6 linked regions of the Homo sapiens genome follow. The protein of the gene in region 1 purifies or fractionates together with the protein of each later gene. This does not show direct contact. Each region holds a gene or a part of one and is shown in the gene's direction. Other genes may lie near its edges.

What was found.
Region 2: the proteins of SERPINB1 (region 1) and SLC25A13 purify together in Homo sapiens (co-immunoprecipitation; one large-scale study listed by IntAct). This does not show direct contact.
Region 3: the proteins of SERPINB1 (region 1) and TES fractionate together in Homo sapiens (co-fractionation; one large-scale study listed by BioGRID). This does not show direct contact.
Region 4: the proteins of SERPINB1 (region 1) and STAP2 fractionate together in Homo sapiens (co-fractionation; one large-scale study listed by BioGRID). This does not show direct contact.
Region 5: the proteins of SERPINB1 (region 1) and ARHGAP18 fractionate together in Homo sapiens (co-fractionation; one large-scale study listed by BioGRID). This does not show direct contact.
Region 6: the proteins of SERPINB1 (region 1) and EIF4H fractionate together in Homo sapiens (co-fractionation; one large-scale study listed by BioGRID). This does not show direct contact.

Annotation. Positions count from the first base shown.
Region 1 is NC_000006.12:2,831,864-2,835,363, reverse strand, and holds the end of SERPINB1 (leukocyte elastase inhibitor), read left to right. Parts: intron 1-1,351; coding exon 1,352-1,756; 3' UTR 1,757-3,032; downstream 3,033-3,500.
Region 2 is NC_000007.14:96,186,099-96,189,598, reverse strand, and holds part of SLC25A13 (electrogenic aspartate/glutamate antiporter SLC25A13, mitochondrial), read left to right. Parts: coding exon 1-18; intron 19-220; coding exon 221-305; intron 306-3,500. UniProt on the Homo sapiens protein: Mitochondrial electrogenic aspartate/glutamate antiporter that favors efflux of aspartate and entry of glutamate and proton within the mitochondria as part of the malate-aspartate shuttle.
Region 3 is NC_000007.14:116,248,539-116,252,038, forward strand, and holds part of TES (testin), read left to right. Parts: intron 1-481; coding exon 482-734; intron 735-1,622; coding exon 1,623-1,958; intron 1,959-3,221; coding exon 3,222-3,437; intron 3,438-3,500. UniProt on the Homo sapiens protein: Scaffold protein that may play a role in cell adhesion, cell spreading and in the reorganization of the actin cytoskeleton. Plays a role in the regulation of cell proliferation. May act as a tumor suppressor. Inhibits tumor cell growth.
Region 4 is NC_000019.10:4,323,543-4,326,185, reverse strand, and holds the end of STAP2 (signal-transducing adaptor protein 2), read left to right. Parts: intron 1-640; coding exon 641-790; intron 791-877; coding exon 878-970; intron 971-1,518; coding exon of another isoform or gene 1,519-1,656; coding exon 1,657-1,731; intron 1,732-1,988; coding exon 1,989-2,053; 3' UTR 2,054-2,143; downstream 2,144-2,643. Other genes in the region: FSD1 (fibronectin type III and SPRY domain-containing protein 1), read right to left, coding at 2,543-2,643. UniProt on the Homo sapiens protein: Substrate of protein kinase PTK6. May play a regulatory role in the acute-phase response in systemic inflammation and may modulate STAT3 activity.
Region 5 is NC_000006.12:129,707,378-129,711,641, reverse strand, and holds the start of ARHGAP18 (rho GTPase-activating protein 18), read left to right. Parts: upstream 1-1,464; 5' UTR 1,465-1,505; coding exon 1,506-1,618; intron 1,619-4,264. UniProt on the Homo sapiens protein: Rho GTPase activating protein that suppresses F-actin polymerization by inhibiting Rho. Rho GTPase activating proteins act by converting Rho-type GTPases to an inactive GDP-bound state.
Region 6 is NC_000007.14:74,194,476-74,197,596, forward strand, and holds the end of EIF4H (eukaryotic translation initiation factor 4H), read left to right. Parts: intron 1-265; coding exon 266-403; intron 404-693; coding exon 694-833; 3' UTR 834-2,621; downstream 2,622-3,121. UniProt on the Homo sapiens protein: Stimulates the RNA helicase activity of EIF4A in the translation initiation complex. Binds weakly mRNA.

The DNA of each region.
Region 1 (3,500 bases):
GTGTAGCATATATCTTCATCACGTACTATAAAATTCTATTATTACACTGTTTGTTCTCATCACAATTCATATAGATAGTGAATTAAATTTTCAATGGGTACAAGACAGAAAAAGCCTCATGTGACATGTTAGGCCTATTTACTAGTATGATCTTTGCATGAGGTTTCCATTATATGTAGGGACTCTAGCCTGCTCTGTGCTCTCCGTCTCCTCCCTATCCACCTATTCATCATCCTTGCTATCAGGAAGGGGGTCTAATGTTAATCATTTGCATGTACAGACTTTTAATACATTGTATAACAATCAATGTGGCCTTTCTTTTGGTTGTATTTTTGCATTAGTTTTTTTTCTGATTGTAAAGTGAAAATCTCTAGCCTCTTAAAAGGAATTATCAGCACCATTAGAAGAAGTAGAGTGATGGTTCTATTCCAGTCCAATAGCTATAACAATAGTAATGATAATAGCTGACATTTATGTAGCACTATGGGCCAAGCACTTTATATACATCATTTCATTTAATGCTCTCAACAATCTATAAGGTAGATATAAGTAATGTCCACATCACATTTCAGATGAGGAACTAGCTCCAGTGCATAATCTGCCTTTAAAATTTTTACCTAGGAGCTAAAGTTATTAGATATTACTTCAGCTTCAGTGGGATTCAGACTAAATAGAAGAAATATTTTAAATTTCTTCTAGCACTACTCAACCTGGAAGTAATAGCAGCTGTCATGACCTATCACTGTAATCCATTGTGGTAGGGGTTTAGTAAACCCTGGATGAATGGATGGATGGATGAATGGGTAGATGGATGGGTGGATGGGTGGATGAGTAAATGGGTGGATGGATGATAGATAGGTGGATAGATTGTTGGATGGGTGGGTGGGTGGATAGGTGAATGGATGGATGGATGGGTGGATGGGTAGATGGATGATGAATAGGTGGATAGATGGTTGGATGGGTGGGTGGGTAGATAGGTGAATAAATGGATGGATGGATGGGTGGCTGTGTTGCTGGGTAGCTGGGTGGATGGATGGATGGATGGATGGATGGATGGATGGATGGATGAGTGGACAAATGGGTGGATGGATGGGTGGATGGGTGGGTGAGTGGATGATGGACCCAATGTACAAATCCCTTGAACCTTTGATGACTTGGAACACCACCTCTGCCCTATTTCACCAATTGCCATAATGAAATAAAATGCTCCAAATGGAATCTGTTTTGGCACAAAACATGAAGGAAACTAACTAGCAACTGATATTATGGGTCCATTGATTCAATAATACTTTATTGCCTTACTTATGTAAAATTGATATCACTTCCTCTTTCGCCTCATTTTTAATTGCAGATTGAGGAACAGTTGACTTTGGAAAAGTTGCATGAGTGGACTAAACCTGAGAATCTCGATTTCATTGAAGTTAATGTCAGCTTGCCCAGGTTCAAACTGGAAGAGAGTTACACTCTCAACTCCGACCTCGCCCGCCTAGGTGTGCAGGATCTCTTTAACAGTAGCAAGGCTGATCTGTCTGGCATGTCAGGAGCCAGAGATATTTTTATATCAAAAATTGTCCACAAGTCATTTGTGGAAGTGAATGAAGAGGGAACAGAGGCGGCAGCTGCCACAGCAGGCATCGCAACTTTCTGCATGTTGATGCCCGAAGAAAATTTCACTGCCGACCATCCATTCCTTTTCTTTATTCGGCATAATTCCTCAGGTAGCATCCTATTCTTGGGGAGATTTTCTTCCCCTTAGAAGAAAGAGACTGTAGCAATACAAAAATCAAGCTTAGTGCTTTATTACCTGAGTTTTTAATAGAGCCAATATGTCTTATATCTTTACCAATAAAACCACTGTTCAGAAACAAGTCTTTCATTTTCTTTGTAAGTTTGGCTCTGTTGGCTGTTTACACCCATGAATTTTGGCATGGGTATCTATTTTTCTTTTTTACATTGAAAAAAATCCAGTGGTTGCTTTTGAATGCATCAAGTAAAGAAGAAGAAAAGAATACATCCGATGCGTAGATTCTTGACCATGTAGTAATCTATAAAATTGCTATATCCTCCTGATAGCCATGGGAAAACATGATAAGATGGTCATTTATTTTGCAGTTAGAATTTTGGAAGCCACAAAATAGACAGACACCCTGACTGTTGAAGGGAGGTTTAAAAACAGATATTCAATTGAAATGTAAGAGAGCACCCCAATTGAGAGCCCAGGTTACGAAGACAAGCTTGCCTCGCCTGACTTTTCTGTCCCTTGTTCTGCAGGATTAGTATTCTGTTACAGACCTCTAGTTTTTAGACTCTTCAATTAAAGGGCCAATGGTTATAACCTGCATTCCCTTTTTTGTTCTTCTTTATGTATAATATATAGTTCATGTGGCGCTGCATGAAATCAAGAAGTGGGTGTCTTAGGATAAAAGATACCAAGAGTCTACAAAAATAACCATGTAGTAAGATAAACTGCTGAACAAAGGTTTTACTGTTAGCCACCTTCTCATGTGTTTTCTTTTCTCTTTTTCTTTTTCTTTCTTTCTTTCTTTTTTTTTTTTTTGAGACAGAGTCTTGCTCTGTTACCCAGGCTGGAGTGCAGTGGCACGATCTCAGCTCACCGCAACCTCTGCCTCCTGGGTTCAAGTGATTCTCTTGCTTCAGCCTCCTGAGTAGCTGGGATTATAGGCATGCACCACTAGGCCTGGCTAATTTTTGTATTTTTAGTAGAGATGGGGTTTTTCCATGTTGGCCAGGCTGGTCCCGAACTCCTGACCTCAGGTGATCCGCGCACCTCAGCCTCCCAAAGTGCTGGGATTACAGGCATGAGCTACCATGCCTGGCCTTCTCATGTGTTTTCTGATTAAGGCTCTTGACTTCCAAGGCTGTGTGGGGAGATGGGGTGGGGGCTCTTGGACTGATATAAAACTTTGTCAAATGTAGTTCTTTGAATGGAGCTTGAAACGCCGCATATTCTTGCTCCCACAAGGATAGTGGGCATCATGAATTAATAAAACGTCCTAGGATTCTGCAAGCTAGACTGGTCTCAGGCCTCTTCTTATTGCCCCCTATCCCTAGACAAGTTAAGACTGCAAGTGGGGATTATTGGCCTTACAACATTGTTGGTAGAGAGGAATTCCACATGTTAACAACAAAATTTTAGCAACTCTTTTGCCAACAAACTTTCTTTTCTCCCGCTTTCTTAAAATACTTACCATATTCCAGGTTTTCTCACTCTCAGGAAAAACTCTGCCTTCTGTAAGTCTTCTCTTTTGGTTCCTCATCCTAAAATCCACTCTGATTTGGAGTAAATCATGTTAATTGTGTAGAAACTGAATTGTAGGGGCCCAAGTGAGCCCGCTCAAATTATATATGAGGGAACAGGCCTATAGACTATAAGTAAATTGTTGAAGGTCAAAACAATTGGTGAGTTCCAGGGCAGAGACTAGAATCCAATGCGTATTTTATGTGGAGAGCATCTAATTTATGTAATGGTGAAATAGTTA
Region 2 (3,500 bases), on another chromosome or scaffold:
TTTATATGAGCCAAGGGGGTAAGTTGGCTTTTTTTTTTTTTTTTTTGGAATTAGCTTAATAAAAGGAGGTTAGGAGGAGGGCAGCAATCAGGAGAAAAAGAAGCCAAACTGAAGGCTATACTGAAATATGAGAAATGAAAAAAGGGATGTTTTTAAATTTTATAATGTAAATTGTAATAAATTGGTATATTTGTTGCTTGTGTTTGTTTTTCCCCTACAGACGTATGACCTTAGCAGACATTGAACGGATTGCTCCTCTGGAAGAGGGAACTCTGCCCTTTAACTTGGCTGAGGCCCAGAGGCAGGTGAGCAAAGAGGAGCAAACTTGCATTCTGGGGTTTCCTTAGCAGGATACCCCAACCCTGTTCCACTTGCAGTTGCCTTTGCGGCATTGGTATCTGACTTAACCATTTTTCTGTTTTGCACCAAAACTCTCGATAAATTTTAAAGGCTGTAAAGAGAAATTGCTTAGAAATGGTGTGATAAACAGGTATTTGGCATTTGCTCATTTCTTGCTAAGGTGGAGTGATTTCCTAACTGCACCAGAAGCCTAATGCTCCGAAAACATGAAGGAGGTCTTTTCTCCTTTCTTGAAGTCTCATGTTGAGAGATGTAGCGAAAGAATCCCGTGTTGGTGTCACTGTGCCTGTCGGCAGCTGCACGTTGCTAAATGAAAGCCGTCTTTGCTCTGTGGAGCAGCCCTTCATCAGCGCATCGTCTAACTGCCATGCCTTCCGTTTTTCTGAATATCAAAATGAGATAATTTTGTTTAGTCTGGAGTTACAGTTTAAAGGCTTTCAGACCTATTTTCTCTGTGAAAGGATTCATAAGTTATATGGAAACAATTTTAGGAATGCTAAATTTTATTTTATGGTTAACAGAAACCAATCTCTTGAAGTTGTGGGAGTCAGAAACTTAAGACATGGAACTTTCTCCTTTAACTCTTACCCAGCTTTCTGTAGATCAGGATTAGAGAAGAAAAGCCTTCATAGCATGTGTTAGTAAAATAAATGGTGTTTGTAAAATAAATCCACTCACAGGCGAGTGTCGTTTTTAGAAAAATTTCTCCTTTTAGGCAGAGCCATCTCTGAATCCTGTGAGACTTCGCAGTTTCTGGCATGGAGCTCTGGGTTTGTACAGAGACGCCAGTGTGACCACAATGGGTTGCTGCAGGCTACACTTTTAGGACTGTCAGACCTTGAGCCAGGGCCCCCTTCTTTTAGCTCTTTCCCACCCAAATGCAGCGGTGAGTTTTGTGTGCAGCATGCAAGTCAAAGTAGTGGGTGTGTGCTCAGTAAATTCTAACGAGCACCTCTGGAAAACCAGCTGGCCTTGCTTAAAAGAGGAAGCCGATTTCTCTGAGTGCAGGAGAAATAACTATAATCACGTGTAGAGGTGGAAGCAACACTGCTCTCCCTTCCCTTTGATTTTTAACACTGCTTAGGAGATGATTATCTCTTCGTCTGTATGCCACCAGCTATTGTAGAAATTTGGGGATTAAGAGAAGCAGAGAAGTTTTTTTTAGATCCCTCCTACTCTTCAGCTGGCAGCGGCTTCCCACAATTTTTCCTTTAAGCTCTTTGCAGCTTTTGAGAGTTTATGATGGGTGCTTGTTGATACTGGCCATGAAAGGGTTAGACCAGATTGATGAGATTTATAGCAGGAAATGATTCGCTGCCGCTTAGAGGTTTAGAGCAATTCACAATGGCCTTACCTGGAATAGGCTTTTTACTGCATGAACCCTAGTGGGCCCGACAAATTCAAGCAAGGGAGGTCGTCCACCTGTGGGCACAGCGCTGCCTGTCCAGCACTGTGCAGCACTTGTAGCATTTATCCTGGACAGAGGAGTGAAGGAGCAGAGTTTTGTCTCATTTCAAGAACATGCTACAGTTCTGGCTTTGGAAAAGTTAAATAAAAGTCTAGGATTTCATTTGTCTTTTAGGAGAGGAATTAATGGTGGTGGTAGGTCCCTCCTCCCCCCACCCTCTATAATTTTCAGAGTATTTTCACTCATTATTTTGATGCCAGAACATTTCTAAGTATTGCATATTTATATCCCTGTAAATAAAATATTGCTTCTCTTTTGGATGCATCTGTCAAAATGAAGGTACTATTGATTTCCATCTATATAGGGCTACAGTTGGAAACAACTCATAGAATTTGCAAAAGAAATGTTTTGTATCTTAAAGAGGCATATTTCTATGTAAAGCTATTTTCAGTTAAGTGACTTTGAAGGAGATTCCAAATGATCTCATTGTATTAGAATTGTGTTACATTGACAGCAACTAAAATTCAGTGGGTTGATAGCTGGGGTTGCTGATTATTTTCATTGTTCACTGATTTTAATTATCATGGATTCTGAAAAACAAATTTTATTGAATGTATGTATTCATTCAACAGGTATTTATTAAGCACTGACTATATGTCACCCTCATTTGACAACTCTCTGTGACATAAAATTACTGTTTTATTTATGCAGACAGAGAAGTGCAGCACTCTGAAATGTTCTGGCATCAAAAACACTGTGAGGATAATAGGTCAAAAGAACCAGAAAACAATGACTGACTGACCTGAAGTATGAATTTAGAAAAGATGGACAAAAAAAGAGAAAAAGTAACGATCAACTGTAATACAGCCACCTAGTTTTAGCTACTGTAAATGTTTTGAGTATCTCTGGGTGGTAGGGAGGCAAAATATTAGTATTAATTTTATATGCATATATATGTAAACCTCTTACAAGCATTTTTAATAAAAAGTGACATCATTTTGTATATAGTCTTAAAAATTGTTTTTAAAAAAATTACCAGGAAATAGGTCAAACATTTAAATAGGTACAAAGAATCATATGACAAATACCTATCTACTTACCATGCTCTTTTTAGCCTATGTTTTCTTTTATAATTCCTTGTGAACATTTAATATCAAATATTCTTTTACAGTATCATTTTGAATGATAGGGTTTTGTTTTAAAGTTATTATTTTTAAAGGCTATAGTCCTCCGTTATTGGACATTTAGAATATTTCCCAAATTTTTGTTCTTTTTGTTTAAAGAGCAAAAATTTGGGAAATAATCGAAATTTCCAATAAGTACTACAAATGTTTTTTAAGTGCTACATTCTTGTAGCTTGTTACATGCATGATTATCTTCTATCCTAACTTTTTTCTTTTTGAGACGGAGTTTCACTCTTCTTGCCCAGGCTGGAGTGCAGTGGCGCGATCTTGGCTCACTGCAGCCTCCGCCTCCCAGGTTCAAGTGATTCTCCTGCCTCAGCCTCCCAAGTAGCTGAGATTACAGGCATGCGCCACCACGTCCGGCTAATTTTTTATTTTTAGAAGAGACGGGGTTTCTCCATGGTGGTCAGGCTGGTCTCGAACTCCTGACCTCAAGTGATCCACCCACCTCGGCCTCCCAAAGTGCTGGGATTACAGGTGTGAGCCACTGCACCCAGCCTATTCTAACTTCAGAGGTTATGTACATTTTAAGGGTTTGGGTGTATATT
Region 3 (3,500 bases), on another chromosome or scaffold:
TGATATTGAGCATGTTTTCATATATTTTTTGGCCATATGTATATCTTCTTTTGAGAAATATCTGTTCATGTCCTTTGCCCATTTTTTAATGGGGTTGTCTTTTGCTTGTTGAATTGTTCCTTATAGATTCTGAATATTAGACCTTTGTCAGTTGCAGGATTTGCAAATATTTTCTTCCATTCTATAGGTTGTCTGTTTGTCCTGTTGCCAGTTTCTTTTGCTTTGTAGAAGCTCTTCAGTTTAATTGGGTCCCTCTTTCAATTTTTACAACCTAGCTTTTAAAAGCCTTATCAAGCAAAGTCGTGTTTTGTTTCCTTCTTGCTTAAATATATGGATACTTATTCTCCCTCCTAAAAAAGGACTTGCCTTTGCATACCATGATATAGAATAGGCCTAAAAGTATTTTATGAACTATAAATGTATGAACATAAATATCAATTAGGTACAATTAATCATTTTCTACTTATTTTCAAAATTATAGAAAAATATGTCGTAACTGCAAGTGTGGCCAAGAAGAGCATGATGTCCTCTTGAGCAATGAAGAGGATCGAAAAGTGGGAAAACTTTTTGAAGACACCAAGTATACCACTCTGATTGCAAAACTAAAGTCAGATGGAATTCCCATGTATAAACGCAATGTTATGATATTGACGAATCCAGTTGCTGCCAAGAAGAATGTCTCCATCAATACAGTTACCTATGAGTGGGCTCCTCCTGTCCAGAATCAAGCATTGGTAAATGATATGGAACAGAGAGTTTCTTTATTGAAGTTCCTGGAGTATTTATTTGGGGCAGTTTCTTTGATGACCTAATCAACTTCACACATCCCAGATCTGTTATTCTTCCGGGGTTCTCATTACTTTGACTTCTGATTCCTGTTCTAGTCTTTTGAATGTAAGACTAGATACTTCATAAAATTTTTCCAACTCCCTAGATATGTTTACCTTTTTGAGGGAATGGTCTAACGTTCTTAATAATTAGATGGAAATCAGATGTTTTATATCAATCTAGTAACTCTTCTAGCTTAGTCTTGAGAGGATTTATCTTAAGATGGTAAAGAAGAGAATTTTTGTCATAGTTTAGAACTGAAAAAAATATTCAACATTATCTTTGTGTTTTTTTCATTTCCTTTATTAATACTATATAAGACCAAAAAGATCACAGTTTTATATCAAGCTCCTTCCACTATTATAACAACCAAATGAAACATTTGGAAGTCTTTTAAGGTTAGTTAAATCATTAAAGTGAATTTTGCGATATCATTTTTTATGTAATAAAAATGTTCCTGGTCCTACAGACCATTCCAAACATGTCTGCCTAAAAGTTTATGTTTTCTTTCAATTGTACATTTGTTTATTTAGCTTAAGTAAACAGTAGTAACTCAGATCTTACAAACTGAAAAAATATATAATTTCATGGAGAGAAAGTGTTACTTTTTACCCAACTAAATCTATTTAGTGTACCGTTTTTGAGTTTTAACTTCTTAATATACTGTGAGGGTGAGTTGCTGCTATTGGATAGAACCCACTTCTTTCTTAAGTAACTTGCTTCTGATGTGTGTTATGAAACATCACACTGCCTAATGGCCAATCCCAGTTAACATTGGCCTCCTTGTGGTTCAGGCCAGGCAGTACATGCAGATGCTACCCAAGGAAAAGCAGCCAGTAGCAGGCTCAGAGGGGGCACAGTACCGGAAGAAGCAGCTGGCAAAGCAGCTCCCTGCACATGACCAGGACCCTTCAAAGTGCCATGAGTTGTCTCCCAGAGAGGTGAAGGAGATGGAGCAGTTTGTGAAGAAATATAAGAGCGAAGCTCTGGGAGTAGGAGATGTCAAACTTCCCTGTGAGATGGATGCCCAAGGCCCCAAACAAATGAACATTCCTGGAGGGGATAGAAGCACCCCAGCAGCAGTGGGGGCCATGGAGGACAAATCTGCTGAGCACAAAAGAACTCAATATGTAAGTAGAGTGGTCACACTGTTAGCCTGATTTGTATACTTTACAGAATTTTTTTCCCTTACTTTGAACTTTTTTGGGGACTATTCCTCTGAGTTTCCAAAAGGGAATAAGTATGGGGAATAAATAGGATTTAGATTCAGTTTAGACTTCCCACAGAGGGTCATCGTGTTTGAAACTTCTGTCTAAAGCCAAATTTTCTATGTATTTATTATCAAGGATAATTGTGGATAGTGAGTTTTATGTACAGACAGTAGTTGGTATTGGCATGCTGATCAAAGACAGCATTATTATTCTATAGTCTGTTTCTAATCATAATGTTGGTATTAATTGCTTATCTCTGCTGCCCATAAATAGGAATATATGCTTAGGTTAATTCAGTTTTGCTTGTGAGAACGTGCCTAAAATTCAAACTTAAATTTAATTTTTGTGGATATATAGTGAAGCTTTTTTTTAAGTCTCTTCTAAAGGGAGAAATTGAAGTATTTTGCTAATGACTTGATGGTAGGAGGCAATTATGACACAGATGAACAGACATAAGAACTAAACCTGCTGTAATATATTCCTCATAGCTCCAGTTAGCACACCAACCAATAAGGCTTAGTCCTGAAAAAAGAGCACTAATAAGCCCTGAGGTGATAGTTTTAGAGAATCTACTTAAAATTGACCTGAAAATTACTATTTTCCTTTTTCCATAAGTGACCTTAATTCAGGAAATAATGCCTGTTACACACAGGGTGAATGAAGTAGATTTGAATAGCCGGGAGAAAGCTGAGATTCCATTTCACAGAATTATTAATACGTTATTATCTACATCGACAAATTTGTAATTTCAGTAGAAATTATGTCTCTTCAAAGTTGTTTCTCTGAATTTCTACTGAAGTCAATGATAAGAAATGGCAGTCTTAGCTGGGCACAGTGGCTCACGCCTGTAATCCCAGCACTTTGGGAGGCTGAGGCGGGTGAATCACGAGGTCAGGAGATTGAGACCATCCTGGCTAACACGGTGAAACCCCGTCTCTACTAAAAATACAAAAAAATTAGCCGGGCGTGGTGGCAGGCGCCTGTAGTCCCAGCTACTCGGGAGGCTGAGGCAGGAGAACGGCGTGAACCCAGGAGGCGGAGCTTGCAATGAGCCGAGATAGCACCACTGGACTCCAGCCTGGGCGACAGAGTGAGACTCAGTCTCAAAAAAAAAAAAAGAAAGAAAGAAAAGAAATGGCAGTCTTCTAATGACTAGGTTGTTCTGGATGGCTTCCCTTTCAGTCCTGCTATTGCTGCAAACTGAGTATGAAAGAAGGTGACCCAGCCATCTATGCCGAAAGGGCTGGCTATGATAAACTGTGGCACCCAGCTTGTTTTGTCTGCAGCACCTGCCATGAACTCCTGGTTGACATGATTTATTTTTGGAAGAATGAGAAGCTATACTGTGGCAGACATTACTGTGACAGCGAGAAACCCCGATGTGCTGGCTGTGACGAGGTATGTTCTATGGGACCACCGGCATGCTGGTGCCCTCTTAGACCCTCATATGGTCCCTTTACC
Region 4 (2,643 bases), on another chromosome or scaffold:
ATGCAGATACGTCCGTGCACCGGCACAAACTCGGACACGTGTAGATACACGGGCAAAACGCACTCATGTAGACAAGGACTAAAGCAGCCACCTCAGCAGGCGTGCAGTCACACACGTATACACACCACAGGTGTGTGTGTACAAACGTTGCACTTTAACTTATCTAGATTCAATTAGTGTACACGTGTATGCCACACAAAGACTTTTTTTTTTTTTTGAGATGGAGTCTTGCTCTGTCACCCAGGCTGGAGTGCAGTGGCGCAATCTCGGCTCACTGCAACCTCTCCCTCCCAGGTTCAAGCGATTCTCCTGCCTCAGCCCCGAGTAGCTGCGATTACAGGAGCCTGCCACCACGCCAAGCTAATTTTTGTATTTTTAGTAGAGACGGGGTTTCACCATATTGGCCAGGCTGGTCTTGAACCCCTGACCTCAGGTGATCCGCCCACCCTGGCCTCCCAAAGTGCTGGGATTACAGGCGTGAGCCACCGCGCCCGGCCCAGACACAGACTTATACATGGGCACACACACAGACACACAGGGACACATGCCTGTCTCCAGGCATGCACACAGACCCCCCCGCCAACCTGCAAGGTGTCCCTGTATGACATGGGTCTTGACAGTGACCACGTTTCCCCATCAGGTCCTGCACCCTGCACAGGTGGCCCCAAGCCGCTGTCACCTGCGTCTAGCCAGGACAAGCTGCCCCCACTGCCCCCACTACCGAACCAGGAAGAGAACTACGTGACCCCCATTGGAGATGGCCCAGCTGTTGACTATGAGAACCAAGATGGTGGGTGGGGAACAGAGCTGCTGAGAGCTGGGGGTTGGGGAAACAGGTTAACAGCTGATGTGACACGTTACACTTTTGTCCACGCAGTGGCTTCCTCTAGTTGGCCAGTCATCCTGAAGCCAAAGAAGTTGCCAAAGCCTCCTGCCAAGCTTCCAAAGCCACCCGTTGGACCCAAGCCAGGTTGGGGTCCCCCCCATATCCCACCCTCACCTGATGGCAGGCCAGCCTCAGCCCTCATCTGACTTTTTTTTTTTTTTTTGAGACAGTCTCACTCTGTCGCCCAGGCTGGAGTGCAGTGGCACAACCTTGGCTCACTGCAAGCTCCGCCTCCTGGGTTCACGCCATTCTCCTGCCTCAGCCTCTCCAGTAGCTGGGACTACAGGTGCCCGCCACCATGCCCAGCTAATTTTTTTTTTTGTATTTTTAGTAGAGACGGGGTTTCACCATGTTAGCCAGGATGGTCTTGATCTCCTGACCTCGTGATCCGCCCACCTCGGCCTCCCAAAGTGCTGGGATTACAGGCGTGAGCCACCGCACCCAGCTCATCTGTCTTTATTGTTGTTTTTTGTTTTGAGATGGAGTCTCACTCTGTTGCCCAGGCAGTGGCGCGATCTCAGCTCACTGCAACCTCTGTCTGCCGGGTTCAAGTGATTCTCCTGCCTCAGCCTCCCAAGTAGCTGGGATTACAGGCACCTGCCACCACGTCCATCTAATTTTTGTATTTTTAGTAGAGAAGGGGTTTCACCATGTTGCCCAGGCTGGTCTCGAACTCCTGACCTCAAGTGATCCACCCACCTCAGCCTCCCAAAGTGCTGGGATTACCGGCGTGAGCCACCACACCTGGCCTCATCTGTCTTCTCTTCCAGAGCCCAAAGTCTTTAATGGTGGCTTGGGCAGGAAGCTGCCAGTCAGTTCAGCCCAGCCTCTCTTCCCCACAGCCGGTAAGGGGTCTGCGGGGTCAGTGCGGGGCGGGCTTCCCAGGTGTGTGACCGTACAGTCACACAAGTCCCCACACTCCGAAGCGCCCTGTCTTTTAAGGTTCTGCTGTCTCTGTCTTGAAATTCTTAATGCCTTCGAGCACACTGTCCTGTTGCACGGGGCCCTGCAAATCTGTAGCTGGTCCTGGGTGGCTGTCAGGGCGGTGGGCATGGACTGGGGATCCCTGAGCCAGCTGCAGCTCCTGGTCCTGAACCCCCAGGGCTGGCAGACATGACGGCAGAGCTACAGAAGAAGCTGGAGAAGAGGCGGGCACTGGAGCACTGATTCGGACACACCAGGGACCAGCGGGCTAGTCCCAGGGCATGGCCCAGCGGCCAGATTCTTTTTCCCAGGATTAAAACTCTGACCCCAGGACCCATGTGTCTGGCTTGGCTTGGGGGATTAGGGGACGAGGGGTCCGTCAGATGTCTGCCTACGGATGGCCCCATTTACTCCCAGTGACCCTCAGCTCAGTGAAATCTACCACCATATTCTGTGAGAAAAGCCCATTTTACAGCTGGGAAGGATGAGGTCCCGGTGCCACACCCAGGCCCAAAGAACCAGCACCGCGGCCTCGCCTGGCCAGTGTCTGACCTTTATTAAGAGGTGAGGTGGGGAGAGGGCCCGCCAGGGTGCCCACTCCCTCTTGGTGACCCCCCCATCTGGAGTTAAGGCTCCAAGCAGCAAGTGACAGAGGAGGGTGCCTGGCTCCAGCAGCCTGGGCTTGGCGGCGACTCCCCCAAAAACACCCCAGCTGGGTGGGTGCCTGGGGGCCTAGGTGAGGCTGGTGTTGGAGCTGCTGGTAGCACTGCCTCGCTTTTGCAGGCAGCGCACAGCACTGGGGACCTGCAGGCCTGTCGTCACCTGGAAGCTGC
Region 5 (4,264 bases), about 130 Mb from region 1:
CAATAAGTTTATGTAATGATGGAATTGGAAACTTGTTCAAGAGGAATTCTAGAGAGTTGAATGAATCATAAAAATCTAAAAAAACCTTCAGACTACTGGGTATGTCAGAGTAGAAGCCAGGCGTGGTGGCTCATGCCTGTAATCTCAATACTTTGGGAGCTTGAGCCAAGAGGATTGCTTGAGCCCAGGAGTTCAAGACCAGCCTGGGCAACACAGTGAGACCCTCCCTCTCCACAAAGCATAAAAAAATTAGCTGGGCGTGGTAGTGCATGCCTGTGGTCTTAGCTATTGGGGAGGCTGAGGCTGGAGGATTTCTTGAGCCTGGGAGGTTGAGGCTGCAGTGAGTTACAATCACCACTGTACTCCAGCCTGGGTGACAGAGTGAGACCCTGATTCAAAAACAAACCAAAAAAGTGATTTTTTTTTTTGGAGGGGAGATGGGGAGAAAGAACAGAGCTGTCTTTTGTGTTTATGATAATTTTGATCTTGTTTCTTAATCTGCAAAACAAAGAAGAGCATACTGGTGAAAAATAAAAGGAATGTAGCCTAGAATTCTGTTCAAATCCAGCTTCTGGCACTAGCAACTGTGTTATCTTAGTGAAGTTACTTAACTCGTCCCTCAGCCTTACTTTCCTTGTGTTATGTATAACACAGATGATAGTGATACCTATCTTGTACGGTGTGTGTGTGTGTGTGAGAGAGAGAGAATTGAATGGAATGAGATAATACATGTGAAACCCCCGTCCATGAGAGCTTGGCATATAGTAGGTGCTCAACAAATGGCAGGGACTTCTCTTGTTCTCAGCAATAACACTTAACAGAGCATTGGTAGGTCTATCCCTTTTTGGTGCTGAAAAATATTTTGCTAAAACAAGACGTATATTTGAGATTGGCTTTATGTGAAAGACGACGACATTCCAGGACACACAATTTTTATGAGGGCATTTTTAACCGGACACAAGGATCAAGCCTTTCTCGTCGTCTGGATTGCAGAGTTTTGCCGCGGGTTCGTTGTTTTTTACTATGGCTAATTTTAACGCTGAACATGAAGGGGTTAAGAAATGCCTTTACTCATGTTACATTAAGTAGCAGAAATTATAAGATAGAGGAATTGGGGAGGGAAAAAAAAAAGCCTTGGCAGCAACTCATGGTTTCCTAAGTAAGACGGCTTGTAGTTACAGTGATGAGTTGAATATACGTTCTGGCAGTTTAATCTGATCAGACTAACTTGGGGGTGGGTGCAACCCGTCGCTTCCACCCTTCGCCTCCTTTAACCAAAGCCGCCCAGAGTGCAATTGTCCAGAGTTGAAACCATGCTGTGAGTTGCAGCTTCTAATTGGAGAGGCAGGAAGCCCTTCCCTGGACAGACCCCGCCCCTCCCCGTGTGAATCGCCAGCCTGCGGGGAGGAGCTGGCCAATGCTAATGAGCGAGTTGCCAGGCGAGACAGGAACTTCTTTCCCCTTCTCTGTGTCAGGATCGCAGAAAGTATGTCCCTTCTCTCACCATGAGCTGGCTCTCCAGTTCCCAGGGAGTGGTACTAACAGCCTACCACCCCAGCGGCAAGGACCAGACCGTCGGGAACAGCCATGCAAAGGCAGGGGAGGAAGCCACCTCGAGGTAAGCCTTCGGAAGCTGAAAACAAAACAAAACCCTCTTACCTGCTCCAGGAAGAAAGTGACAGGGAAGTTGGCGTGGGGAGAAGGGAATTCCATCTGCACGTCGAGCCTGAGCTCGTGCAGCAGCAGTAGCAACGTTTGGCGTGATTTTTATGTACTTTTCATCTCACCTAGTCCAAGTCTGAAATAACCCATATGATTACTGGTGAAGACAGAGAAGAAGGAACTGGGGAGAGGGCTATATGGGCTGTCAGACTAGCTATTTAGCAGGTGCATTTGCACATGCTGAAAGATCAAATAGGTCTATCTGAAACACTTCCTTTCCTATGAAATGGAATTCTTGAATGGGCTCAAGGCACTGCCACTGGAACTGTTCGCTGGGAAAGTCTGCCAAAAAGCAGGGAGGCTGTTCACTGTACTGTACAAGCTGTTGTTGTTAGAGTGTTTTTTTTCCCCCCTCTCTTTGCTGAAAGCAAACCTCTTAGGCAAAAAGCCCAAGACACTGGCCTGTGGCAATATGTTTCACATTCTTTTGTGTATGTGGATTTTTTTTCCCCCAGGCTTTCAAAAAGGAGTTTTTGTCAGGAGATAGCACTCTGCTGCTGGAGTGAAATGTGGTTAATGTTAAATCACTTTATAGGCAGAGAGGGCAAATGTTCTATAGACCACTGAGGCGCAAAGGGTACCTTTCTCCCTATCTGTGTACTTTGTTCCATTTTCCAAGGGCTTTTTTTTTTCTTTCTCTCCTTAATGACCTTCTCACTAGCTGAACATTTTTACCTCCATCAAGATATAAATAGTAAATATTGGCCTAGAAGATTGCAAGAAGCAAATACTAACCTAATAGCCTAGAACACTAAATTAGTTATCGGTAAGCACATTTCCTCCTCAATGCTTAATGTGATAATAAAACCTTCTTTGTTCTTATGTGACTTATGCCTGTGCCTTAAGCTGAAATAATGCTGCCTTTCATTTGTTTTAAAATCTCCAAATATGAGGGAGGGAGAAAAATCAAAGGAATGGCTGTAATACTCAGTGTTAGACTCCCAGCTGACGGGAACTGTTTCTCACATAGCATCCACAGTATGTATTTCATTGAATGAATTCATTTCCAAAGATAAAAAAGATTTGGTGCTTGTGCCTTAGCTGTGTTACCATTTCATTTTCCATCATTTTAAATGACTTAATGTTAAATCATTAAATCAAGAGATCTTGAAGTGTTTTCATCCATTTTTCTGTAATGTATTAGTAATCATTAAGCAGTAAAGCAGCCTGCAACACCAACCCCATACCCAGCCATAACTTGGATTCCACATGTCAGTCAAAATTGCCAAAATTATACAAGCTCAGGACATTCTCCGACTTTAGGCTGAATGGCCTGAGGACCTGAGCTGAATCTTGGATCTTGATTGTGAGAATGGAAAGGACCTTAAGGACTGAGTCCTAACCTCTCATTTTCACGTAGGACTCAAACCCCAGGGATTAGTTAAGTTTTTGGAAGGTCTGGAGTTCTAGGCCTTTGTCTGGGGCTGCATCTCCAGTTCTGGAGACTCATTATTCTGTGTTTGCAGTGTGGGTGGCCCATACTTGAGTGGGTTGAGAGAATAAGAGAGGATCAGATCATTCTCTGCCTAGGCTGAAGCAGAACCAAGAGGCACTAAGGTGGCAGGGTGGGCAGCTGCCCACACGGCAAGTGCCCTGTGTGGGGCCACAGCTCCAGGTGAGCTCCTTTGCTGGCTGTCACGTAGCCTGCCCATACCAGACCCAACTTCCCACCACTGAATTAGTTCTAGGGATCGTTCCTGATATTGACCGGAGAAGATGGGAGCCTGGTTTGAGGGCAGGGAGGAAGGAGGGAGTAGGGCTAGTTTTCAATGGCTTTTACCCTTAAGGGCTAACGAATCAGATAAACTTGTTGTTGTTTTGGGAGATACCCTGTTTAGCCTGAAAGGATTGAGATACTGTAATTGCTATGGGGGAGGGGATGGATAGAAGGAAGGAGGATTTGAAGGTGGGATGGGGTCCTCGGTGACCACCTAAGAATGGTGATAGTGGTTTCGGGGCGGTGAACTGGACTTTGGCTTTGGCTTTGGCTGGGTTGGTCAGGTGTTGTTTTAAGCCCTGGGAAGCTGCTCCAAGGTGCAAGGTTGATGGTTGATGCCTATTTAAAGAAGTTCTCCAAAAAGTAAAAACAAAACAAAACTCTTAAAAAGGCTACATTAGGCTGGGTGTGATGGCTCACACCTGTCATCTCAGCACTTTGGGAAGCTGAGGTGGGTGGATTGCTTGAGCTCAGGAGTTAGAGACCAGCCTGGGCAAAAAAAAGACCCCCGCCCCCACAGCTCTACCAAAAATACAAAAAAAAAAAAAAAAACAAGAAACCACAAACAAACTAGAAATGGTAGTGCATGCCCGTGGTCCCAGCTACTCAGGAGGCTGAAGTGTGAGGATCACTTGAGGCTGGTGGAGCAGAGATTGCAGTGAGCTGAGATCACGCCACTGCACTCCAGCCTGGGTGAGGGAGTGAGACCCTGTCTCAAAAAATAAATAAATAAATAAAAAATAAAAGCTAAATTAGATTCTGCATTTCCTCCTACCCATTTAAAAATTATAGAAGATAGCACGGAAGTATAACTTTTCTTATCAC
Region 6 (3,121 bases), on another chromosome or scaffold:
ATGCAAGCTGAGCATGTAAACAGCTCGTTTGTTTGCTCTCCTAAGATCTTGATTCCTTTTTCTTTGGGAAGTCTGTTAGCGCTGTCATTACTCCACACATTGGCATTTGGACCCACTTTTAACACACTTTATTTTGGAGAGACTTCAGATAGTGGACAAACTAAAGAATTTAAAATGAAACTCAAACAATTCCCAGAACATTATTCTATAAGCAGCTTGGAGACGATAGTTTGAAAAGTAATTCAGTGTCCTGTTTCTTCCTCAGGCTTCAGGGATGACTTCTTAGGGGGCAGGGGAGGTAGTCGCCCAGGCGACCGGCGAACAGGCCCCCCCATGGGCAGCCGCTTCAGAGATGGCCCTCCCCTCCGTGGATCCAACATGGATTTCAGAGAACCCACAGAAGGTACGGGCTCATGTGTCAGTGGAGGGCATCTTGTCCTGATGGGATGATCATGGCCGGTTCACACCCCGTGGGGACTTGGCGTTCTACGGCACACAGAGTTGTCGGCATAGATCCCCACGTTCTCTGGAATAGCAAGTTCACCTTGGTCATTAGAGCATCTGCTGTTGGGGTAGCAGGCCAGGTGAATTTTAGAAAGTGGGCTGGTTTGCTGACAGCAACATCAGCATGGTCGTTTTGCTGGATATGGAATGGGATCCACACTCTGACAAACTCTGCTTTTTCTCCCCCAGAGGAAAGAGCACAGAGACCACGACTCCAGCTTAAACCTCGAACAGTCGCGACGCCCCTCAATCAAGTAGCCAATCCCAACTCTGCTATCTTCGGGGGTGCCAGGCCTAGAGAGGAAGTCGTTCAAAAGGAGCAAGAATGAGCCTGCGGTTGGGAGGGAATGGGGCGTGGGGGGTTAGAGCAGGACCACAGCCTGGTGAGTCCCCGGGCAGCCGTCCTGCAGCCGCCACTCCTGCGCCTGCCATTGGCCTCCTCACAGCGGAAACACAGCTTGTGAGTGCATGTCAGCTGTTAACAAGTGGTTTTTAGTACATTCTGGGCTTTGCTGTATCTATCTAGTGCCTGTTTGTGCGTTTTTTTCTTTCTTCCGCTGCTTCCCCATTTTCCTTCTGTCCTTTTTCTCCTGCTCCTTGTTTTCCCAGCAGCACATGGGGTTCCTCGGAGGAGCAGAGGTGGCCGCCGTGGGGGGGCGTTTGGGCTGCGGTGCTGCGTCATTTTTCCTTTGCTTTCTCTTTACTTTAGACACTGGCCCAACTCCAGGCGTTTCCTTTCATTCCCTCAGTGCTTCTCTTCTGACCTGCATGTTGAGTTCTGTATTGCTGGGGCTTCCAACAAAAACCAGAGTCACTGACAGAGGGAACAGCAGAGACCTTGTTGGTATTCAGCTGTGATGGATATAGAGAATCAGAGGCACCTTGTTTTCACAACTAGGATAAAAATATCTGCAGGGTCCTTTCCATTCCTATTTAGAGGGAGTCCTGGCTCCATGACCCCCTCCCGAGTGGACTGTCCAAGCAGATAGGCTCACACGAGAAACAGTGAGGCTGAAAGGGGGGGCTATGGAAGAGCGGTAGGGAGTCCACGGAGAAGATGCAGTGAATGCTTGCATGCATTCACACGTGTGTGTGTCCCAGCTAGTTCACTCCTTTCGCCGTGCGTGGTGGAGGCTGGCCTCTCTGGCTGGGTGCAGTGAATGGCCAGCGGGTTTCTTTTCTGCTGGGCCAAGGCGCTTTGGGGGTGGAGGGGGTGGTGCTGGTGCTGCACTGGGCTGACTGCGGCGCTGACGCAGCGTTTCCCCCCATCCCTGTTGCCTGTGTGTTGTGTGGATCTGTTCCTAGTATAGGCAACATAATGAGATACTGTGCTTCCCACCTCCCCTTCAGTTCAGAGCCAAAATGGGTCTAGAATCTGGCACTTTACTCATTTCCTTTGATAAATTGTACTATGCAGAGCTGTCAGGAACCTTCAGATAGCAGTAGAGGACTGCAGCTGTCTAGGTCTGCGGCCACATCTTGGGGACACACTGGACTGTTCCCATGTGCAGGGTTCAGCAGTTATGTGGGAGTGCTAGGGGTTAGGCTTTTGAGCTTGAACGCCTGCGTGTGAACAGATGAAAAATCCTTCAGTACCCAAGTCCCAGTCTGTCCTATGGGGAGCAGTTTGGGGGCGGCCGGCAGCAGGAGCCTGGGAAAGAGGCCCTCGCCAGGTGATGGCAGGGCCAGGGTGGCCTGGGGCACCCAGCGGAATGTGCTTAGTATTTGGTCACCAGCCGTCATCCTGGGCTTTTCCTACTGTGTCTTGTTACAAGGCCTCAGCAATCCACAGAACTCTCTCTCCTTCCTTCCACCTGTCAGCTTCTCTGCTTCTGAGATAAGAACCATTTGTGTAACACCAACACTTAACTTCAGAAAGACATGCATTATGTGGTGTAATCAAACCCGATGCTTTCAGATGACCTACTTACATCTTCAATGTGGATAAGATAAAGAACAAAACACATGCATCTAAACTGCTGGGCAATCCAGTTGACTTTTAAATGTAAGAATGGAATTCCAAACACTTAACACATTCAGCTATATGACAGAAAGTAAATCTATGGATATGGTATTTTGTGAATGATCTTTTAAATAAAAGAAAACCTTACGTAATATTTAATGCTTGCCTTTATTTTTGAGTTCTTTTTAGCTGCTCATGGAATGTAACAATTTTAAATTTGGGAAGCACCATTGAAATGGAAGAGTCTTCCTGTCATTTTAATTCTGGGATGAGTGAAGTTATTTTAAAAGCTGGTGATGATTAGAAATAGGATGCCAATTTTTTCCCCTCACTTGCTAAAAATGTCCTTTTCCCAACCAGGCAGAAACCTTGAAAGTCTGGCTGTTTTTGGTTAGGTAAAGGAACATTTTTTTCCCAAGATGGAAGAAATCAAGCATTTACACAACATGTGGCTTCTTTTAACAACTGCTTGTAAACGAAATTCTAGGTGCCCCTCATGGCTGGGAGGGCTGCTGCTTCCTGACAGCAGATCCTGACTCTGGGGAGGTGCTGCTATAGGTTGGTATTGGATAGTGTTAAAATTGACTTAGGCAGACAAAGAAGAGCTGAGTGGGCAAGGTGCGGGGCATGAATGCGTGTTTGGCAAAGTCCTGG